2 separate regions of the Homo sapiens genome follow, and region 1 is linked to region 2. The links come from fine-mapping of genetic effects on gene expression. Tissue or cell type: tibial nerve. Region 2 holds a variant in brackets; the other region holds the start of a gene. All regions are shown on one strand. Distances are from middle to middle.

Region 1 (2,678 bases), 130 kb before region 2:
TCCCAAAGCGTCCCCTTCCTAAGGGGGAAAAAGAGGCGGTCAGGGCTTGATTCGCGTGTCCCCCGGAGGGTGAGAAAAATGCATTCCGAAAAAGATATCAATTCGTTTTAAGGAAAGGGGGGAGGAAACCCCGCATTTCCCACAGAGTGCACACGAGAGGAATTGAAAACAGCTGGTACCGGTCTATAAATAATTCAGAAAAGGTCTGGCTATACCATTCCTGGGACAGGCACGGATGAGAGGTGGGAAAGCCAACCTGAATGGAAGAGGAGAGAGGGAGGGAGCGAGCGAAGGAGGGAAGTGGGAAGGAAGGAGGAAGGGGGGGAGAAGCGGCACCATACAGCAACACACACTCACACACACGCAGAAACACAATTCCCACTTAACTCGCCAGCGAGTGCGGCCCCCAGCCCCATCTGCATTGCTGCTGACTTGTCTCGCTCGCTCTCCCCATCGCCTCCAGCAGCAGCGCCGCCTCCCACCCCGGGCTTGTGCTGAATGGGTTCTGATTGTGCACGGGGTGCACACTGGGCATTTCTTGGAAGGGGCACACTGACGCGCGCACACACGCCCCCGACGCGCACGCGCCCCGCGCGCACTCACACTCACCCCCGCGCACACTCACCCCCGCGCACACTCACGCTGCCGCCGCGCTGAGGTGCAGCGCACGGGGCTTCACCTGCAACGTGTCGATTGGACGGATGGGCTCGGCGCGTGGGTCCGGCCCGGGGCGCCGCTGCCCTGCCCCTCTGCTAGGTGAAGGGATGAAACCCCCCAAAAGACCAGAGACAGCCCTACCCAGTCACAGCACCCCCTCCCCCACAAAAAAAAAAAACCTTTAAAAAAGCCACGTCCAAATTAGCAAGTGCCGGGTTCTGCTGGATTTCAGAGCTTTACCTCATGCCAGATTCGTTCACGATTTCACGGCTTCGACCCTTTATCTGCCTGACACCCCCAAACCCCTACATTCAAAGGAGAGACTCCAAAGCCCATCTTTACGTACCGGCTCCGAGCGCCTCCGCGGTTGCAGTCTGCGGAGAGGGGTGGCCGGTGGCTGGGAATGGAGGGTTTTCCTTTCCTGCAAAGCAGGATTAATGATCCGTCTCGGGGGTTTTGAAGTTCATGACTCTTCTTTGCAAGGCAAAAGGATATGCATTCGGACGCCAGCACTACTGGATGGTGGTGATCAAGAATCACCCTTGACGAGCACTCTCGATAGAGCGAAGCCCCGAGATTTCCTAGAGGTGAAGAAGCCGGAGGAAGTGGTTTTTGAAAGGGGGTGGGGGGAACCTTCCTTTCTCAAAAAGAGGTGGGGGGTGGAGAGGCAGGAGCCCAGATTCCAGTTGGTGAGGATCGGAGCCGGGGGAAGGGAAGCGGGCGGGGGCAGGCTGTGCAAGTCAACCGCGCGGCAGCCGGAGAGGGAGAGCAGGAGGGGAGGAGGGGAGCGTCAGAAAAATGGGTATTAATCACCGGGGACGGGGGGAGGCGCGGGGAACGCAGGTTGCCTGGTCTGGATTTGGGTCTCACACTCAAAAACGTGCCGCGCACACACACACAGACACACACACACCCCCTACCTCGCACACCCTGACTCCGGGGGGAGGAGAAACCCACGAAGCTGGGGAAGATACTGCTTCTGCTCCCAGGGGCGGGTGTGAGCGCGCGTGTCCTCTTTCTCCACACCCCCCACCCCACCCCACCCCCAAGCCCCTGCACCCCCTCACTCCTCTTGCTAAGACTCTGGCGGAGGCAGCTTCCCACGTCATGTGCTGGGGAAGTGGGGTGGTAAGGTGGATGGAAGGGGGACGGAAGGGGGAAGAAGCTTAGCCCGAGTCCGTGGCGCCTCCTCCCGGCCGCAGCGGGGAACAGCACCGACGGAGAGCGGCTGAGGGGCGAGGGGAGCTAGACAGTGCCCCCCGTGGGCGGCCCGCGGGCTGCGGAAAGCATCTCCAAGGCGGAGCTGTAGTTCGAAATTGAAGACCCTTGCTGTATTTTCCATAAATCAGCCTGTGCTTCCTACGAGCATTCTGTGTGTCGGACGCAGTCTGGGACCGGGTTCTTTCTTGCCTTCAAGGAGCTTAAGATCTATCTGAGCACACGAGGCTGACGCCTAACACAATAGAAAACAAAGCAAAGCAGGTGTCATTCGTGGCTAAATTGTATAGTATGGACCATACGCGTGCTTTTCTGGCTGCTAGTGAAGGCGGGAGGAGTTTGACATTTTTTATTAAAGTGGATCCTGTTATTTAAATGCCTTGAGAAGAGAAGATGGTGAGGCCCGTGAATAATCCCTAAAGGAAACTGGATTTCCTGGCATTTACAAACCCACCCTCTTTGAAAAGGCAAACATCCATTCATTTCTCTTCCTATTGAACTCTTTTATATTTTAATAGCCCTTATCACCACCTGTAGTATTGTTTACTTTTAACATTAATATTATTGTATATGCATCATTTTCATTCTCATCCATTGTCTTTTCAAATATCTAGAATACTACAGTGGTGGAACATTTTCATATTGGTTATATCATGGGCTTCTCACCAGCATTCCTGAGAAGCGGCCATACAAACGCACAGGAGAGAAGGCTGTGTGAGTGGATATACCTAGTGGCTTGGAACTTTAGTCTGTAGAAGCCATCAGATATGTTTTTGCTGTCCTGTAGACCAGACTACTCATAC
Region 2 (2,678 bases):
GGCTGCAGAGGGCTGAATTAGGCAAACAAGCCACCACTGCTTTCGTGTCCCCTGCAGGAAGATGTAAGGGACAAGCGATAGACAGACAGCAAATTATCAAGAGAGGCTTGGAGAGAGAAGAGTGATATAAAGAAAACAAAAACGGGCTACACTCATGGTGTGTGCACTCAAGTGACATGGGGAGGGACTAACAGAGAGTAGGAAGTCAGATGACCTATCCGTGAATGTATCCATCTCAAGGAACAGACCAATAGGGTCTATGATATTATATAACATATAGTATATAACATATATACACATTATATATAAGTATACACATAAAATATATAATGTGTGTATATACATTGTATATATGTGCATGTGCATATGTATGTGTACATATATACATACATGTATACATGCATATATAATCTGCATATATTTATATGTAATATTGATACATAATATTTATATGTAAAGAGATAGGTAGCAAGCTGCATATATGAGTATGGAGCTCAGGAAAGATATCAGACTAAAGGTACACATATGGGAGTCATCAGCATATTGAGATTAAGCAATAGAACGCAACTAAACTACATATGATTACAGAAGGAGAGAATCCAAATAGAAGAGAATCAAGAGCCTAGAACCAAGCTTGTGGTCATTCCAGCTTTTACAGCTAAATTTGAGGACTAGTGAACTCCTGTGGTAAAGGGAAGGACAATAACCAGATGAGGAAATCCCAAGTCAAGGAGAAAAGCAGGCTTTTTCAGGCTACCAGCCGGGGCAGCCTTCCTCAAATGGATATTTGTTCATAAAGGTTACTAATAAATCAAGTTGGTGATGGCCACTATTAGACGTTCTCCTCAATATTTTTTAAGTCAATATGGGCCCCACTCTTAAGGAACTCTTTTAAATACAAATGCCAGAAATGTTTACACCAGCATTTATACTTCTATGGATCAACAATCCTATCAATGAAGGGGTTCTCCCTGCTTTAGAAAAGAGAAAGCACTTTTGCTTTGGAAAAAGAGAAGGCACTGTTCCCTTCCTGAA[T/G]GACTTGGCTCTAAAAATGCCCAAATATCAAAGGACCCTATTGTTCCACCCTGGCAAGTGTTGGGGTAAGGGAGATAGAGTGCTGGAGTGGGGTGGGGTGGGGGGAGTGAGGAAGAGGACAAATTAAAATGATGTTTCTTAGAAGTTCCATGAAATCAGAAATACGAGGAAGGTGAAAAACAATGAGTGGCCAGATTACTTCTACAAGTGGGGAGGGAGGGCAGTCTGAAAAGGCTGCTTTAAGAATATGAGTCTGACAATAAAATACTGGCAACCAGATCCAGCAGCACATCAAAAAGCTTATCCACCACAATCAAGTCAGCTTCATCCCTGGGACACACGACTGGTTCAACATACACAAATCAATAAACATAATCCATCACATAAACAGAACCAACGACAAAAACCACATGATTATCTCAATAGATGCAGAAAAGGCCTTCGACAAAATTCAACAGCCCTTCATGCTAAAAACTAAAAACATGCTAAAAACTCTCAATAAACTAGGTATTGATTGAACATATCTCAAAATAATACGAGCTATTATGACAAACCCACAGCCAATATCATACTGAATGGGCAAAAACTGGAAGCATTCCCTTTGAAAACCGGCACAAGACAAGGATGCCCTCTTTCACCACTCCTGTTCAACATAGTGTTGGAAGTTCCGGCTAGGGCAATCAGGCAAGAGAAAGAAATAAAGGGTATTCAATTACGAAATGAGGAACTCAAATTGTCTCTGTTTGCAGATGACATGATTGTAAATTTAGAAAACCCCATCAGCTCAGCCCAAAATCTCCGTAAGCTGATAAGCAACTTCAGCAAAGTCTCAGGATACAAAATCAATGTGCAAAAATCACAAGCATTCCTATACACCAATAATAGGCAAACAGAGAGCCAAATCATGAGTGAACTCCAATTCACAATTACTACAAAGAGAATAAAATAGCTAGGAATCCAACTTACAAGGGATGTGAAGGACCTCTTCAAGGAGAACTACAAAACACTGCTCAGCAAAATAAAAGAAGACACAAACAAATGGAAGAACATTCCATGCTCATGGATAGGAAGAATCAATATCATGAAAATGGCCATACTCCCCGAGGTAATTTATAGATTAAATACTATCCCCATCAAGCTACAAATGACTTTCTTCACCAAATTGGAAAAAACTACTTTAAAGTTCATATGGAACCAAAAGAGTCCGTATAGCCAAGACAATCCTAAGCAAAAAGAACAAAGCTGGAGGCATCATGCTACCTGACTTCAAACTATGCTACAAGGCTACAGTAATCAAAATAGCATTGCACTGGTACCAAAACAGCATTGCACTGGTACCAAAACAGAGATATAGACCAATGGAACAGAACAGAGGCCTCAGAAATAATACCACACATCTACAACCATCTGATCTTTGACAAATCTGAGAAAAACAAGCAATGGGGAAAGGATTCCCTATTTAATAAATGGTGTTGGGAAAACTGGCTAGTCGTATGTAGAAAGCTGAAACTGGATCCCTTCCATACACTGTATACAAAAATTAACTCAAGATGGATTAAAGACTTAAATGTAAGACCTAAAACAATAAAAACCCTAAAAGAAAACCTAGGCAATACCATTCAGGACATAGGCATGGGCAAAGA

What was found. PIP is the estimated chance that this variant, and not a neighbour inherited with it, causes the effect.
Region 1: it holds the start of GRIN2B, and the variant in region 2 is fine-mapped to the expression of GRIN2B in tibial nerve (GTEx, PIP above 0.99).

Annotation. Positions count from the first base shown.
Region 1 is chr12:13,980,339-13,983,016 of GRCh38, forward strand. It overlaps GRIN2B (glutamate ionotropic receptor NMDA type subunit 2B), which reads right to left and starts at 1,264. Exons shown (of 14, transcript NM_000834.5): 1 at 1,004-1,264; 2 at 1-18.
Region 2 is chr12:14,112,175-14,114,852 of GRCh38, forward strand. No RefSeq gene overlaps it. Among named protein-coding and RNA genes, the nearest start is that of GRIN2B, 130 kb to the left of the region's middle. The variant T/G (reference allele first, on the strand shown) is at 1,036.